Regions from separate parts of the Homo sapiens genome. Here region 1 is linked to region 2. Evidence: fine-mapped expression QTL. A gene starts in region 2. The other region holds a variant in brackets. All regions are shown on one strand. Distances are between the middles of the regions. Region 1 holds the start of LINC03040 (long intergenic non-protein coding RNA 3040). Region 2 holds the start of SCIRT (stem cell inhibitory RNA transcript).

The links.
Region 1: its variant is fine-mapped to the expression of SCIRT in thyroid (GTEx, PIP above 0.99).

Annotation. Positions count from the first base shown.
Region 1 is chr6:43,996,571-44,005,678 of GRCh38, forward strand. It overlaps SCIRT (stem cell inhibitory RNA transcript), which reads right to left. Exons shown (of 5, transcript NR_125864.1): 2 at 4,473-4,546; 3 at 4,021-4,145; 4 at 2,648-2,938; 5 at 1-738. LINC03040 (long intergenic non-protein coding RNA 3040) reads left to right here and starts at 4,015. Exons shown (of 3, transcript NR_160956.1): 1 at 4,015-4,130; 2 at 5,483-5,557; 3 at 6,111-9,108. It overlaps LOC124901321 (a long non-coding RNA gene), which reads left to right. Exons shown (of 2, transcript XR_007059591.1): 2 at 2,381-2,984. RefSeq lists enhancers at 4,122-4,271, 8,012-8,643 and a silencer at 6,194-6,363. The variant G/C (reference allele first, on the strand shown) is at 4,995.
Region 2 is chr6:44,070,065-44,079,172 of GRCh38, forward strand. SCIRT (stem cell inhibitory RNA transcript) reads right to left here and starts at 4,588. Exons shown (of 5, transcript NR_125864.1): 1 at 4,433-4,588. RefSeq lists enhancers at 2,999-3,058, 3,099-3,198, 4,219-4,478, 5,599-5,668 and silencers at 3,279-3,358, 3,449-3,708.

The DNA.
Region 1 (9,108 bases), 73 kb before region 2:
CAGTGAAGGAGGCCAAAAGTCTGAAATCAAGGTGTTGGCAGAGTCTGTTTCTTCCAGAGGCTCTGATGGAGATTGTTCCTTGCCTCTCTCCTTGCTTCTGGGGGCTGCCAGCACCTTGGTATTTCTCGGCTCATAGCTGCATCACTCCAATCTCTGACTCCATCATCACATGGCCTTCTGCTCTGTGTCTCCATGTCTCTGTTTTCAAATCTTTTTCTCCTTATAAGGACACCAGTCACTGGATTTAAGGCCCACTCTAATCCAGTAAGATCTCATCTTAATTTGATTACATCTACAAACACCCTATTTCCAACTACGGTCACATCCCCAGGTACTGGGGGTTAGGACTCCAACTTATCTTTTTGGTGGGGATGGGGGGGCACAATTCAACCAACAACAGTGATTATGGCTGTGTGTCTGTGTGTGTAAGACTGAGTGTGCATGAGTGTGTGTATTAATGTGTATACGCGTGAGGGGTAGTGAGTGTTATGCACATGTGCTTGTGAGAACATGTCTGCGATGGTGTTTCTCGGTGTGCTTATGTGACTGTGGGCATGTACATATGAGCATGTGTGTATATGTGCTTCTGTTTCCACGACTTGGAGACCCTGCTGGATGAGCTGAGAAGGGCAGCAAGGCAGGACGGTGGCAACAGGTTGAAGAGGTGCTTGGGGCCAGCCAGGTGAGCAGGCAGGCCTTGCCTCATGAATCTGGAAGAGTAGCTGGTGGATACAGACTCTGAGAAACAAGGACAAGGATGTTTGTTGAGCTGGGATACAGGCTGGTAGGCCCAGGCAGTAGCTCCTGACAGCAGTGCCTGTTCCCAGGTCTTCTTTCAGGAATATTCCTAGAAACCCTCTCCACCCATGCTCCTGACCCTTGCATCCCATTTGCCTGGACAGAGAGGCACTGCCTGACTCCTCCCTTCCCAGGAATAAAAGTCAGCACTCAGTTACCTGTTGTGCCAGCCAGGTAGGGGCGGGGCAGGTAGCCAGTCCTTCCCTAGACCCACCCCCAGCCTAGTCCAAAGTAGCACCCAATCACCCATCCCTATGCCCTGCCATGCCTCTCAACTTGTATCTTGCACCTTGGCTGGGGCTGGACCCCAGAAATCAAAGAAAAACGGGGGGAGCATGTAGCAGTCAGGTAAGGTCCAGAATGAGGGCTTCTTATCTCCCTAGGGCAGCTCTCTTAGGCAAGCCCACCATCAAGCGACAGGATATTGGGAAGGTCTCCTCATAGTAATGTCAACTCAGGGCCTGCTCTGAGCCGGGTTATCTCATTTAAATTTCACAATCAGGCCAGGTGTGGTGGCTTTTGCCTATAAGCCCAGTATTTTGGGGGAGTGAGAGGTGACAGGGTGCTGGCAGTCCTCACAGCCCTCGCTCACTCTCGGCGCCTCCTCTGCCTGGGCTCCCACTTTGGCCACACTTGAGGAGCCCTTCAGCCCGCCGCTGCACTGTGGAAGCCCCTTTCTGGGCTGGCCAAGGCCGGAGCCGGCTCCCTCAGCTTGCGAGGAAGTGTGGAGGGAGAGGGGCGGGCGGGAACCGGGGCTGCGCGCGGTGCTTGCGGGCCAGCGCAAGTTCCGGGTGGGCGTGGGCTCGGCAGACCCCGCACTCGGAGCAGCCCGCCAGGCCCCACCGGCCCTGGGCAGTGAGGGGCTTAGCACCTGGGCCAGCAGCTGCTGTGCTCAATTTCTCCCCGGGCCTTAGCTGCCTTCCCGCGGGGCAGGGCTCGGGACCTGCAGCCTGCCATGCCTGAGACTCCTCCTGGCTCCGTGGGCTCCTGTGCGGCCAGAGCCTCCCCGACGAGCGCCACCCCCTGCTCCATGGCGCCCAGTCCCATCCACCACCCAAGGGCTGAGGAGTGCGGGCGCACAGCGCCGGACTGGCAGGCAGCTCCACCTGCAGCCCTGGTGCAGGATCCACTGGGTGTAGCCAGCTGGGCTCCTGAGTCTGGTGGGGACGTGGAGAACCTTTATGTCTAGCTCAGGGATTGTAAATACACCAATTGGCACTCTGTATCTAGCTCAAGGTTTGTAAACACACCAATCAGCACTGTGAATGCACCAATCGACACTGTATCTAGCTACTCTGGTGGGGACTTGGAGAACCTTTGTGTCAACACTCTGTATCTAGCTAATCTAGTGGGGACATGGTGAACCTTTGTGTCTAGCTCGGATTGTAAACGCACCAATCAGCACCCTGTCAAAACAGACCACTGGGCTCTACCAATCAGCAGGATGTGGGTGGGGCCAGATAAGAGAATAAAAGCAGGCTGCCCCAGCCCGCAGTGGCAACCCGCTGGGATCCCTTTCCACGCTGTGGAAGCTTTGTTCTTTTGCTCTTTGCAATAAATCTTGCTACTGCTCACTCTGTAGGTCCACGCTGCCTTTATGAGCTGTAACACTCACCGCGAAGGTCTGCAGCTTCACTCCTGAAGCCAGCGAGACTACGAGCCCACCGGGAGGAACAGACAACTCCAGACGCGCCGCCCTAAGAACTGTAACACTCACCGCGAAGGTCTGCAGCTTCACCCCTAAGCCAGCGAGACCACGAACCCACCAGAAGGAAGAAACTCTGAACACATCTGAACATCAGAAGGAACAAACTCTGGACACGCTGTCTTTAAGAACTGTAACACTCACCGCGAGGGTCCGCGGCTTCATTCTTGAAGTCAGTGAGACCAAGAACCCACCAATTCCGGACACAGGAGGATCGCTTGAGCCCAGGAATTCAAGACCAGCCTGGGCAACCCAGCAACACTCCATCTCTACAGAAGTTGTAAAATTAGCTGGGCGTGATGGGGCGCATCTGTAGTCCTAGCTACTTATCCTAGCCTTGGCGAGAGGATCACTTGAGCCCAGGAGGTTAAGGCTGCAGTGAGCCATGATTGCACCACTGCACTCCAGCCGGGGTAACAAAGTCAGACCGTGTCTCTAAAAATAAATAAATAAATAAAAATAAAATAAATTTGACAACCAAGTTTAAATGGTGTTCTCATTATTCCCATTTTACAGATGCAGTCACTGGGGCCCCCAAGAAGTTAAGTGATCTGCCTAAGATCACATGCCTTTGTTTATATGTGTTGGAATTTTTCAATTCTCTCTGGAAATCCACATCCTCCACCCCCAACCCAGACTCCAACACAACTGCTTCCACCACGGCCCACCTGCGTACCCCACACATATCCCTGAAGTGCAGACTTCCTCCCATCCTTCCCCAGGAAGATTCCCTGGTCTGTGGGGTAGCGAGTGTTGGGGTGGTCTCTCCTTCCCTCCCATGCTTCTAGATTCCTCTGTAGGGTCCCGGTTTTGTTTTTGGTGTGGCAGCAAGCTCACTGCCTTTTTGAGTACTGTATGTCAGTGAGTTTGCATGCACACACCTGGAGGAGGGATGTGTGGGCATGAGAGGTATCTGGGCAAGTGGGCTTACTTGCCCACCTGGGGCACATGTGGGTACAGTGCAGTGGAGCATACATTGCCTAGATTGTAACCGTGTGTGTGCCTAGACACAGGCAAATGAGCCCATGTGGGTGTTCATGAAGGGCCTGCCCCCTGCATGTTTGGGGGTCTGTAGAATGAGTCCCCATTTCTCTCCCCTTCCCAAATAACTGCCACCATCTTCAGTTCAGACTCCTGGGCCCCAGGTAAGGGGCTGGTGAAAACCGCCTGTGACTGGGGACAGAGACACCTGAGTCTTAAGCCCCACCCAGGCTGCTAGTGCCCTTGAGCAGGCATCACCCCACCCAGGCAGCGGGAGTGTCCTCACCCAATGGGATAGGGTGACATGGGGGAGGAGGTTTGAAGCGGGGAGAAGGCAGCGAGGCTTTCAGCTCCCTAGATGGGAGGCTCATTACCCTAGCACTCAGTAGGTTGTAGGGAAGGGGGACTGAGCCAGGACTTGGCACTGACTACAAAGGGTAGGGGCAGCCCCCAGCACTCCCGCCGCGGCAGGCCAGGGGAGGGGCTGTGACGTTTGGTGGCCTCATGCAGCTGAGAGGAAGTAGCTAATTGCCAACCTGATGACTGGCGGCTGAGGAGTGGGGTGATGATGCCACTGGCAGAAGCAGGCGCCCTGGCCCAAGGAGGAGGCCCTTCAGCAACGGAGTGGGCCTGCATTCTGCGGAGGGTGAGACTGAGGTGGCTGCAGTCAAAGGAGAAGGGGGCAGGGGTTTGTTGAGGCTGTGACCGTGGGAAAGCGCTTCTCCAGGGCTTCCCTCAGCTTCAAGGAGAAAGAGTTCAGAGGCCCTGAGGGGATGAAGGGACTTGTGAAGGGGCTTCAGGGGGATGGGTTGGGGGGAAGGAGGTTCCTATTCTTACTCCCCTTCTGCCTATGCTCCCCCAATGTTCCTGTCTCTCCCCTCCCCCACCTTGGCCCCCTCTTTGGCCCCTGTGGCCAAAGTTGTTGAGGAAGGAGGGAGTAGATGGAGGGCTCTTTTCACCAGAAGACCCCCAGGCACAAGCAGCCCACCTTACTGATGGTCAGAGCATCCAGAAGAAGTGGCAAGACTTCAGCTGTCCTCAAAGCAGGAAGACAGAGTGTTTCTGGCAGAAAGAACAGCACAAGCAAAGGTTAGGCAGTGGGGTCTGGAGAGGCTGGTGGAGGACTGGGGCTTGGCTTCAATGGTTATGAGAGGAGGTGGGCAGGATGTTCTGTACCAAGGGCCACACTGTCCCTTCCTGGAAGAAACAGTGGGTACCCAGCACCCAGAGCTTCTCCCACATGCTGGCCACCGCCTCTGGCCCCAGTAGACCTGGCCCTCAACTGCCTCAGCAAGCCTCACAGGTTGGGGACCCCACCCTCATTATTCTCAAGTGCATCAACCCCGAAGGACTGAAGCCCCGAGTCCCAATAAACAGGTCCCATCCATCCGTAGGCCAGTCCGCTGGGCCCCTAGCACCCCCTATGGGCAGGAAGCAACACTAATGGAGGAGGAGCCTCCAGCAGCCTGGGGTGGGGTGGGGGTGGGAGAGTGAGACGTGAGGGAGGAGA[G/C]AGACTTGCCCTCTAGGAAGCGGACAGACCATGCCTCAGGAAACCCCAGTGTCACAGGTCACAGACACTGACCTTGAAGCGTTACTCTCATGGGTGAAATTTAGCCCCTGTCCTCAGGAAGCTCCCAGTCTGACGGGGGACACATATAGTGCTCTCAGAGCTGCCTTCTTTAGGGTGAAACTCAGTATCTGGGCTTCAGGAAACTCCCAGTGTAAGGGGAGAGACACGACCCTGCCCTTAGGGATCTCTCAAATGAGGCATACCCACTGGACTTTCGGGAACCATCAATCTGTTTCCAGACATGGATTAGAGATTTCAATGCCTCAAGGGCTGCCAGGAAAAAAAATACAAGACGTCCAATTAAATTGAATATCAGATAAACAACGAATAATATTTTAGCATAAGTCTGTCCCATACAATATTTGGGACAGACTTACACTATTTAAAGTATCCAGTTTAACTGGAAGTCTTGTGTTTTTATTTGCCAGATCTGGTAACCCTAGGTGCCTCCAGTTTGAGGGAGGAGAGAGGACACCCCCTCCACCCCAGACATAGGAAAGCAGGTAAACACCTCAGCGTGCTCCGGAGGGCAGGGGTGGGGCAGGAGGAGAGTCCTGGGGCTCCGGCTCGCGGCAGTTTAAAATTCCTTCCAGGCCAGAGCCCTAATCCCTCGGTGCACAATGGCCGCCTTCTCCCCCGCCGCCCGCGCCCACGCCCTCCCCCGCGGGGCCGTGGCAGTGCCACCAAGGGCCTCTTTAAGCCCCTTTGAAGCCGCGGAGCCCCGCGCCGCAGGAGGCCCCGCCGCTATGCCAGCTATGCCAGCTATGTCCCTGCTGCCGCCGGCCGCCACCGCTCCCCCATTAATGCTGGCTAATCTGGCTAATAAATAAACTCCCCTCCCAGCCCCAGCCCCGCGCCGACTCCTCCCCGCCCCCGCAGAATCGATGTCAGGGCTCGACTAGAGCAAGCGCCCGCACTCCACCCCACTCCCTCGAGATGTAGCTGACGTTTTTTCTTATGGCTGCCCTAGGTCTGTAGCCCGTCGGGGATTCTCGGGGAGACGTGGGATTTGGGAGGTCTCCGCCTAGCCACTGCGTTTGCCTTCCTCTTTTCCAGTCCACCTGCGCACCAGGGGCAGGACACGTGGCTGGGTGCAGACGCTGGCCCGGATGTCGCGGAGGACTCGCGGGCCGGTAGAGCGCGCGGCGGCGGCGGCGGCGGCGGCGGCGGGAGGAGACGCAGGTCACGCCCCCTTCCCACCACCTCCCGCCGCCGACGGGGCGCGCGCGCCGAGGAGCCCGGGACAGGTGACTCCTAGAGGACTGCGTCTGCGCCTCCCCCGGCGGGAGTCCCTTCTTCGCGGCCTCTGCCGCCCCCTGCGTCCCCTCCTGGGCTTCCGAGAGTCTGACTCAGCCAAGCCGGCATCGCTTCGCCTCCTACAACACACCCCGAGCGCGAGAAGAAATTACAGGATTGCAGGGGCACGGCTAATGCGCTCTAATTACCCACCGCCGCTGTCATCCGCGGCGCTCCGCGGCGCTGGGCCAACGCGCCGTAATTAAGACGCCGCTCCCCGGTCCCGGAACCCTCCCTTCGCCACCCTCCACCCACCCACCTCGCGGTCCCCAGGACCACTGGCTGCCAACTCCTGCCGCCCTCTGGGACTGCCCCTCAGTCCCAGGAGAGCTATGAGGCCTCACTGGGGGCAGAACTTGGGGAGACCGAAGCCGGCCCTTCCACTCCCCTAAACCTACAGTCCTGGAAGGTCTCTGCTGGAAGAGACTGGGAGAGTGGGGAGGGGCCAGGGACCTATTTCGTTGACAGAAACAGTGAGGTCTATTGGAAAGTTAGCCTTCAGTGGGAGGAGTGGCAAAGGCACGCAGGGCAGCAGTACCCCCGTTTGGCACTTGAGGCACGGAGAAGGGAAGGGAAGTCCGCCCAGCCAGAACTCCCAGACCCGCTCGTTTAACAGTGGCTTTATGAGCAGCACGACGGACTCCCTCCCCTGGCGGGGAAATTACCTTCCTGCGAAGAAAGGTGACATCCCCGCCACAGACACGGAGGCCCCGCCTGCTGGCCAGCTGTGGCCGCCATAGGGGAGCTGGTGAGGAGTGAGGTGGCTCTGGCCTCCCATGTCAGGTAGGGTGAGAGAGGCCCTGAAGATAGAAGCCAGGCCCGAAGGCCAGAATTAAAGGGGTAGCTTGGCCATCAGCTCCTTCCCCCAAAACCAGGCTCAGAGCTCTCCTCTATCAGCAATTCTTTCCTGAGGTCCAGGGTGTTGCAAACTCATGGCCTTGGGCCACGTTTTACCTTCAGTGAGGTTTTGTTTGGCTTGCAATGAGTACATGGGTTTTAGGTTGAATGTGAGAGTCTGCAGACAATGTGGGTTCTCCGACTGCCCTCCCAGTGAAGGTGGACCTCTGATTTAGACCGGCCCGCTGGGCCCGTGCCTACATCCTTTTCCTCAGCGTCAGGATCTTAGTCCCCATGATTGCTGCCCCTTTGTGGTCTGCATGTTTCTTGGTAAGGGTGCCCAGTCAAGTGTCTCTGGGAGCCCCCTCTTCTCTGTCATCGTCAGGCTCCCCACTTGCAGTGGCCGTGGTGGCTGCACATGCTCCCGGATACCCCTCCAGCACTCCCTTTTGTCATCTTGAGTTTCAGTCCGTGACTTGGGTGGCACCCTATCTTCTCCATCAGGGATGGTAGCTATTTTTCTGCCATGAGACTAGAGGTTGCTTGAGAACAGGAAATTGGATCTCTCCCTTCAGGCTGGGATTTCACTAAGGGCTGGAGAAGGGGGGAATATGGGAGGATTATCTCCTATCACAGGGAGCGCTCTGAGGGCAAGGCTGTGTCTCCGATTCAGACTGACGGTTCCCTGAGGATGGGGCTGTTTCTCCCCTCCGACTGGGGCTCCCTGAGGATGGGGCTGTTTCTCCCCTCCGACTGGGGCTCCCTGAGGACAGGGCTGTGTCTCCCCTCAGCCTGGGGCTCCCTGAGTCAGGGCTGTGTCTCCCCTCAGACTGGGGCTCCCTGAGGACGGGGCTGTGTCTGCCTCAGACTGGGAATCCCTGAAGATGGGGCCGTGTCTCCCTCAAAGTGGGGCTCCCTCAGGACAGCGTTGTGTCTCCCCTCAGACTGCGGCTCCCTGAGGACGGGGCTGTGTCTCCCTCAGACTGGGGCTCCCTGAAGAAAGGGCTGCTTCTCCCTCAGACTGGAGCTCCCTGAAGATGGGGCTGTGTCCCCCTCAGACTGGGGCTGCCTGAGGATGAGGCTGCATCTCCCCTCAGACTGGAGCTCCCTGAGGGCAGGGCTGTCTCCCCCCTTCAGACTGGGGCCTCCCCCAAAGGACAGGGACTGTGTCTCCCCTGGGACTAGGTTCTTTGTGTCTTCTGCATCAGACAGATTCCCATGAGGACAGGGCTGTCTCCCCCTCCATCTGGAGCTCCCTGAAGGCAATGGCCTCTCCCCTCAAATGGGACATTTGCACCCCACCCCACCCTCTGGCTCCCCATGGCGCCCAGGCATTCCTCCCAGGACACCATTTGTCACGCTTTGATGAATGAAACTTACTAAGAATAACTCAGTCCTTGTAGACTCTAAAGGACAGGGGGAGGGAGAGGGAGGAGGCTGGTGATTGTGGGGGTGCTGGGGGAGGGAGGACACAATCCATTTATTCAATAGCATTTCCTGAGTCCCCAGCTGGGCACTGGGGGAGACACAGTGAGTGCCACAGAGCCCCCTACTGTGCCATTTCTGCCACTGACTGCCAGGGCAGACTCTGAGACAGAAAGTTCAGGTTCCTGCTTCAGAGCCTCCCCACCCCAGCAGTCATTACCTCAGGGCCACCCAGCCCCCTCCATGCCAGTCATGAGCTCCCTCTGCCCCTCCCTTCAGTGGAGGGGAGACTTTGAAATCAGGTGCTTGGGGGGGGGGCGCTGCTCCCAGTGGGGGTGTGAGGAACCTGGAGGATGAATCCCTGTCCCCCGCCCTCCCCCTACTCTATTCTTCCTTACCCTGCCCCTTTCCACTCCAAAACCTCAAGCCTCTGGTTCACATCTGAGTGACCTTTCCAAAGCAACTGTTCTCAGGGGGTCCTTGGGAGCCGGGAGGC
Region 2 (9,108 bases):
TCAAGCGATCCTCCTGCCTCAGCATCCCTAGTAGCTGGGACTACAGGCTAATTTTTTGTAGAGAGGTTTTGCCATGCTGCCCAGGCTGGTCTTGAACTCCTGGGCTCAAGCAATCCTTCTGCCTTGGCCTCCCAAAGTGCTGGGATTACAGGCATGAGCCACTGCAACTGGCTGAAGATTCTGGATTTCTAATAGGCTCCATGCCCATGCTGGCAGAGGGCACACCCTTCATGGAGTAGCACCACCCAAGGAATGTCTTGCCACTTGCTTTTCTACTTAGTGAATATCAACACACAACCTCAACCTCACTCTTTTCAACCACTGCATACTATTGGTGTTTGGAGGCATCATAACATATCCAATCCGTGCCCTATTAATGGACTTAATGTTGCTTCCAGTTTTTCAGGTTTGGAAGCAAAACTGCAATGAACACACTTGTATGTATACTTTGAACACTTGTGACATTTATAACAGTGCATCTGATAAATTCCTAGATATGGAACCCTCGAGTCCATGGTTTGTGAATTAATTCTTCTCATGTATACTGCCAATCCCCTTCACAGGTGCAACTGTCCTCCCCCCCAGCTCTGAGGATGTCTGTGTCCACACAGTGAGGGGTTGCCCATTTTAGTTGTTGTCAATCAAATTGGCGAAAAGAGAATCTTCTCATGTCTTCATTTTGATTTCTTCTATTTTGACTGAGGGTGAGCATTTTCACCTGCTTGTTAACCATTAGTATCCCCTTACCGGTTTATGTGCTTTGCCCATTTTTCTATTCGTTTTTATTTTCCTTATTGACTTGTAAAAACTCATCGGTCATCTATGTTAAAAATATTTTTTCCAGACGGTTGTCTTTAGAATTCAGGATATTACATTAAAAACACATTTTTTTTTCAGAGATGGAGTCTCACTGTGGTGCCCAGGCTGGCCTCAAATTCCTGGGCTCAAGTTATCCTCCCACCTCAGCCTCCCAAGGAGCTGGGACTACAGGCATGTAACACAACACCCTACGTCATATTTTAATACAGCCAATTTTAAAAAATTCTTTCCCTTTGTGACTCCTAGGTTTTGTGTCAAACTTTCCCCAATCCAAGAACATACACTTTTAGACTTTCAGATGTTTTCTTCTAGTAATTTTATGGTTTCCTTTTTACATTTAAATCTTCACTCCATCGGGATTTATTTCAGAATAAGAGATGAAGTGGGGAGCTGGATTTCTTTTTTTTCCCCCTTAACAGCTAACCAGTTGTCCAATTTGATTGAATAATTCATCTTTTCTCCTCTGATCTAAAATGTCATTTTATCATATATTTAATTTCCATTTGTTCACGGGTGTGTGTCTGGCCTCTACTCTGCTCCTTTGATCTGCCTGTCTGTTCTTGTGCCAGTACCCAACTATTTTATTATTGGAGCTTTCTACAACATTTTAGTAGCACTAGTCGTCCCTTATAATACTTCTTTTTCAGGATTTTCCAAGCTCTTTTTGCATGTTTATTTCTCCAGATGAACTTTAATATAATTTGTCAAGTTCAAAAGATCTCGTTGTTTTTCACATCTTCCAACAGATGTGATTTTCGGACATCTCAGCCCACAGCCAAACAGAAACAAGTTGAGAATAGGGTGGGTTTGGTGGTCTGCCCTGGAGGCAGGCAAAGTGATGGTAACAGAAGTGATAGTTTATACGGAGAGAGTTGATGAAGTGATAAAGTACTATAAAAGTAGACACAAGAACTACGAAAATGTAGCCTTCATGGAATGAGCCGTTGGTGTGGGGCCAAAAAAGGCCTTGGATTTTCACTGTATTACAACCAGGATACTGATGGACCCTTGTAACCACAACCCTGAGTCATGAAGACTCACATGTTCTGTAACCTCTGATTAAAAGCCCGGAAAGCGTGTAATATCCACTAGTGATTCCTATCCAAAATATCTCTTTTTAAGGTTTCAGATATTAATGTCTGGAAAACTAGTATGAAATGGTTCATTCTTGGATGGTGACATAAACATGACATGTTACTGGCCTCTTTACAGTTTTCTCAAAGCCCACCTTCAAATTCCAAGGAGCTGCCAGCTCCGGGATTTGAATTCACTCTATCCATGGAAACAAAGCTGAGGGAAATGTCCCCAGACTTTCAGCCAGTTCAAACACAATAATAAAAAAAGGTTTACCTCATACATGCCTCCAACATATGAGGCATGTTATAGGCAGATTATATTTTAATCCTCAACAGCCCCGCTGGGTGAATGCTGTACTCCCATTACACAGAAAACTGAGGCTCAGAGGGGTCAAACAACTGGGGCCAGTTTAAGTTAGTACGTGACAAAGAGCTCTCAGCTACCTCCACCTGCACATTCCACAGACCAGTCCCCTTCAGTTCACTCCCACAGGGAGGTTCAAAACACCACCGACCCTATTCAGACATCCCTTTGCAAGGCCCTGTCACCTGTCTTGCCCAATGCCCACCTAGCCAGGAGAGCCAGGATGCACAGTGAGGAAGGTGGAATGAGGTGCCAACGTAGCCCATCCAGGGAAGGAAGACAGCCCCCCCCCCCCGGCCACCCACTTGCCAGTGGCCCAGGTGGCAGGCCAGCCACTTGCCAATCCCCTTCCTGATCAGGGATTCAGGAAGTGAAGAGAGTGCCCCTGGAAGTCAGGAGACACCTCCAAGATGAAGGCCCTGCCTGCCATAGCCTGACACAGCCTCCCTGTACTCCCTGGGTTGTCCCAGGACGCAGACTCTGTGCTTACCATACCACACCTTTGTCAGTGGTGTGGGCAGGGCCCAGCAGAGTCCTGGACACCCCAGGGAGTAGGAGCTGTGCAGGTAACATAGGAGGGGGTGAAAGGGAAATGAACTCCCTTGGGAGTTCCCCATCCCAGAGGAAATAAAAGTCAAAGCACTCCTTTGTTTTTTCTTCCCAAGCCCTTATAAGGGGCTTTATGGGGCTTGCCTAGGTTTGAGGTGCAGCAGAGGCAGGCGGGTGAGGGCCTCCAGGCTGAGAGATCCTGGGGCAAAAGTGAAACTATATGGTCATGAACACGGGCATGTTCTGAACTCTGTGAAACCCTAGCCCAGGACCTGGCTGACTGTACAATCCGTCACCCGGCACACCGTAACAGAAGACCCTACTACGCGCAGAGGACAGTACTATTGGGGTGGCAACTGAAAAGGGTCCTGGCTGGAGGCGGGGTTTGCTGGAGGGGTAACAGAGCGTGCGCGGAGTGGAGAGGGTACGGAGGCTCACCGCCCAGCATCCCCAACCCCGGCGCTCAGAAGAGCAGCGCGCTCCGGAGCTCGGCGCGCGCGATCAAAGCCGGCGCCGCACGCGCACGCGCGCCCGCAGCCGCTCCCCCGCCCGCGCCGCTCCGGCTCCCGCGCGCGCGCACTTGAGGCCTCCCTTGTGCGTCTCCTCCATTCGCTACGTGCAGAATGGTCCGTCGGCAGCAGCTGCAGCGCTGGGTGGGAGGGGGAGGAGGAGGGGAGGGGGAGGCGGCGCCCAGGTCTCGGGGAGGGGCCGCGGCGGCCCTGGAGATAGAGGGGTGGGGGCGAAGGGGTGGGCCCCCGCAGCGGGGAGGACAGAGGGAGAGTCCGGGTGGGCTCGATGCTCAGCCTTCCCCCTCCCCCGCTCCCGCTTCTTTCTGCGAGGCCATTACGGCCATCTCCCGGCCTGAGCCTCCTGGAACCAAGCCGACCAAGAGGGGTTTCCTCCGTGTTGTCTCGTCCCCAAAACCCAGAATCCAGACCCAAGAAAGAACCACTCCTGCTGACCCCTCCTCCCGCTACCCGTCCCAACCGCATTCCCAAGCTTTCGTGGAGGTGACCCAACAGCAAGCACTTCCCCACTCCGCCTTTCATGGGGTGGGGTCCCTAAGAGGTACTGCAGACTAACTCCTCTTTTCATCTCTTACCCCACCTGGAGGAAGAGGCATGGCCAGGATGGACACCAGAGCACATTTCCCAGCATTTCCAAGGGGAAAGGGCAGCATCTCAGCATGCAGACTCCAACATGGCCACAGAAAGGTCGAGTGGCGCAGAGGAGCAGGCTGCTGCCCAGGCCCCTAGGGCCACTTCCAAAGGAGTGTGACCACGACTAGGTTGCTGTGGACTCACTCGCATTACAGGGCTGCGCCCTATACACCTGTTTGTAAAGGGTCCTCCTAGAATGTAATGGTGAGGGACCACCAAGCGGTGGACCAAGAATTCCAAACAGACCAGCTCCCTGCCTTGCCAGGAAACCAGATGTGGCCCAGATGTCCATAGCAGTTCCTCCCACAGGGTGGGACACCAGCTATTCTGTGCAACCCCTCCCAACCCTTCTTCCAGGGTCAGGGAGGAAAGCTGGCAACCTCCGTTGTCCCTTCCCATTTGGGTTGCTAGAAGGGAGCAACTCACTCATCCTCCTCTTCCTGCCAAGAGCCACCTGGGCTTACCTCTCCAGCAGCCACCTAGGTTCAACCTGTGGTCTAACCTCAAGCCCTCTGCTGACAGGTTAAGTCAAGATCGCCGGGAAGGAAGGCGTCCAGTTTCATTACACACACAGACGTACACACACACCCGACACCGACCCACGCGCCTGGGCTCTGCACAGTGGCTAGACCCCAAAAAGCCGATTCTCCTGTTCCCTCCGTGGTGGCCTCAGTCTTTTGGCGGCGCCCTCTGCTGGCCACTAGGAAGTGCAGGAAAAAACAGTCTGCCCATAGACGCTTGGTGGATCTGGGAAAGGGGACAAGAGGCAGAGAAACAAGTGAAAAGTGGGAGCTGAGAGCAGCGCTGGGCTGGCCACAAACAAGCGAGGCATGGTGACGCCTTCCTGGAGGTGGGGAGTTTTGAGCCAGCTTTCCATGGGCCTAGGGAGACAAGCCGAGCTGGCAGATAGGGGCTCAGGACACCCCAGGAGTGGCCCTTCCTGTGTGCTGAGCCCTACCCCTGTCCTGGATGGCTCATACACCCACTAACTCATATGGCTGCTGTGCCCTGCTTGGGAGTCCTTCCTGTCAGCCTCTATTGGGGTGGTGGGTGGGGAGGAGCAGCCATGGAAACCCTGATCCTTCTAGTCATAGTCTGGCTCCCTGGGGCTGTGAGAGGTGTCCCCAAAGAGAAGCCTCCAATTGACAAACCTCTGCTCCACCCCACCCCACATACACAGAGGATGGCCCAAGCCCAGGTCCCTGGCATGGTGGGGCAGGGGCCTGAGTCACAGCCTGGCGTGACCCTGCCCAGTCCCCAGGAATGGCCAGCTCGTCCAGAGGTGAGACCCAGGTCAACAATCCATCAGTCTGCCTCCTGCCACCAGGTATCCTCCCCATCACGTCCTACACGTGGGGTGGGCCAGGACAGTGCTGGGCAGAGCTAGTGTTGGGCCTGTGCCTGGGGGCCACCAAGGGGGCCCGGAGAAAAGAATGGAGGGGTTTTCACTTCCTGAGCAGCAGGAGGAGCCAGCTGGGGTTAAAGACAGGAGGGACTGGTTGGGCCTACAGGCATTTGGAGTCTCTCCCTGCCTGCTGGGTGAGGGAGGCAGCAGGTGCCAAGAACTGCTAGCTTCTAGGACCTGACCCTCAAGTTGCTTCTCCTGCTGAGGGGCTTCTAGGGTCACCCTCAGGGCCTTGACATCTGCACACATCTGCACAGGCCCTTCACCAGGGACTTAACCTCCAAAGGCAGCTCCTGCTCCCAGCCTTCACAGGCCCCCCTAGGGCCCAAGTCCCCAGACCCAACCTCAGTCTGCAAGCTGGCCAAGTCAGAGGTCCTGGCTGCCTGGACCACTCCCAAGCAGTAAATGGCACTGTGGGCTTCCTCCATCCTGTCTTCCCCGCCCCACTTCATTGATTCACTGACTTCCAACTTACTGGTCAGGCCCCCTTCCAGACCCTGCCTGGATGAAGAGGACTCCCAGAAGCAGTGATTGAAGGCCTAGGAGGATACAGAGAGCCAGGTGCTTTAATTGGAGGTAATTAGTTAATTTACTCTGAAAGCAATGGGGCAGGGCGGGGACAGGGGGAGGAGAGGGGAGGGGAGGAGGTAGGGGGCTGTGACCTAACTGGGCTCAAACTCTCAAACTCTGGTCAGCCTCCTTCTGGACCACAGCAAACCTGTGTGTACCCACCCACTTAGGAGACCCTCTCCTGGGCCCCAGGTCAGAGCAAGACCCAAAGTGGACTAGGGTGGCTCTGCAGAAAAAGCAGGTGCCCTGGGGTGGTGGGAACAGGCCTTTTGAGGTTAGGGAGGTGTGGACTGGCATGAGGGAATTGGAGAGGTGCAAGGAGCTCTGGGATGGGAACTGGTCCCTCTCCTGTCACGTATAATTCCATCCCTCCCAAGGTCATTGCTGTCACCCAAGTTAGGGGCCCAGCCCCCTCCTTTGGTCAGTGAAGTCCCAGGGCAGCCCATTTTAAATACAACGGGGCCTGAAGGCTAACTTCTGGCCTTCCTGCTTCGGGAAATCATTCCAATAACCGGGAAAAAAGGGGGCCCGAGGACAGAGCCCCTGCCGGGCCCCAGGGGGAGTGTCGTCGGCTCCTTTGCGTCGCCGGCCGGCGGCGTGGCGGGGACTCTGGCCGGCAGCCTCCCGCGCCGTCCGGAGCAGCTGACCCGCTGGCGGTGGGCCAGGTCGCGGCGGGGCCTGGAGGCAGCAACGTGCGGCGCGGCATGTCGCGGGCGCCGCGGCAGGGAAATGTGGGGGCGGGCCGGCGCGCCCCCTCCCCCCCGCCTACGCTGGCCCATTCATAAAACCTGCAGGCGCTGCCCGGCCTGGCAGCCTTGGTCTCCTAATTGCAAACTCATTAAGGAGTTTGCATCTCATTTGCATGGAAATCATTTCCTGGCCCTAAACAGAGAAACTTCCCGCCCCTCCACCAGCCCCTCTCTGCCCTGCTTTACCCATGCACAGTCTGGGAGAGGAGAGGGGGCATATCTCTGACCTGCGCCCCTTCCCTGGCCTCACCACCACCCTCCCACTTTAGGAGTTGGGGAAGGGATTGGCAGAACACCCACCCAGCCAGGAGCCCTGCCTGTGCCCCAGGTGAGCCGGCCCTGCCCTAGTGGGTCCAACTGAGGGGAGGTGCCTGCCAAGTCATTTGCCCCCCGGCCTGGCCGTGCCCAGGGAAGGGAGGAGGCGGTCGGCAGTTGGCCCCAGCAGCTGGTTGTACCTGGCAGGAGGTGGGTGAGGCTTTTCGTGCCCAGCCTCACGTACGTGCCCTGCCATAGGCCGTGCCCCCACCCCCACACCCCTCACCCCACAGAACAAGCGCCTAGTGACTGCAGAAACAGACACCCAGTCATGGCACACAAAGGCACCCACACCAGGCCAGCCATCATGGCTGCCCCCCTGGCAGCCACCCTGGAGGGCAGACAGATGCCTTCACAAGCCATTTTGTCTTTCTCCAGCTTGGTGCCAGGACTGGGGGTGGGGGAAAGGGTTTCTCCTGAGACTTCTCTGAGTAAGGGGGCCCACAGAGGGGTTTCCTTATGTACCCCAGCTGTGGCCTCTTGCCCCCTCTCTCCTGTAACCCATGTTTACAGAGGCCTCCAAGTGCTCTACCCTGCATGGGGACCTGCCCAGGCGAGGGGGTCACAGGAGCCTCCAACCCAGGAGGGGAAGTGAGAGATAAAGCCCCTAAGGAAGGGACACCTAAGTGCCTCCCCAACCAGGGTCTGTCCTTCGTGTCCCAAGTGTGTGTAGTGGAGGGAGTGCTCCCCAGTTTCCTGGGGGTTGAGGTGGGGCGGTATTCTAAACCTTTGGAAATGGAATAGAACTACCTAAAGTATATGAAATTAGATACTACTTGGGACACTATGTCTTGGTTCTGTATGTCCTGGGACAGTGTAAAAAGTGATCACAAAATTTTCAACATCACAGTCTAAAATAAAAACCTGCCTCTTGTCTGCCTCCTCAGACATAAACCTGCTTACGCTTCCCATCTGCCCACACTCCCACCTGCTGTATCTGAAGTTTCTCCCTTCCTTTGCTAGGGCATAAAGGGGTGGGCAAGGATGTTCTGGAACACTGACCACACATCCGTCCTGAGTATGGCTGGACTGACCCTACCCTCCCAGCTCCTGGAGCAGTTGGGTTCCAAGTGCCATATGTGTGCGTGGTTCAGGGGTACTGGAAGAAAGTTTTAGAATGCCTATTTATTTTTCATCGAATCCTTTTTTCATTTAGTGTGAGTGTGTTTTACAAGGTAAACTATATAAAAACATACTCATCTGACGGGTGCGTACTCAACAATCTTTTTTATTGCTAAGGGCACATGATCAAAAAAACTTCGGAGGTCACTGGCCTAGACTTCAGGTGGGGCAGCTGTGGGCAGGGGATGGCTTGTCTTGTCCATCTAAGTATCCAGCCTGACACATGACTAGTTCAGAGCCTGGCAGGGAGCAGAGGTCAGGGACACAGTATTGAATGAATGAAGTCCACCCCTAGAACTGACAGATGAGGAAACTGAAATAATTCTGGGGCGGGGAGATTGCTCAGAGGAGGACATGGGCAGGTTGAGAGAGTCTCCCCTCATTGCTGCTATGTCTGCAGCCTGCCCGTGTCCAACACCCAGCACCCACACAAACCTTACTTCTACCCACCCCAGGGAGCACAGCTCCCTCCTCTGCCTACCAGCAGAGTGGCCACCTGTCTTGAGCTTCTTACTGGATCCTGATTAGCAGAGCCAGACAGGGTTGTCACCTGCCATATCCCTCTACGTGGCAGAAAGTCTGTTGCCAGCTTTGTATCCTAGAACTCTCTGGAAGTCAATCTGGTGTAGGAGAAAGAATTTAGGCTCCAGACAGGCGTCAGTCCTCATCCAGCTTGGTGACCTTGGGCACAACACATAACTGGTATAAGCCTCAGTTTCCCAATCTGTATCTTGGGACCAATATTTGTACTTACTGTACAGAGTTGTTGTGAATGTTGAGTAGCCCACTGTGTGTGTAGGCTCTGGCATATACTAGGTGTTCAGTAAGATTCCTGTCCCTCTGTGTGCAGCAGGTGCCCCATGAAGAATCTGTTGAATTGTGATTTGACATCAGCATGGGAAGGAGAATTCCGAAGGCAGACAAATGAGCCTTTGCTCCCTCCTCTGCCTGCTGGCACGGTGCCCACCAGTCTGAGTTC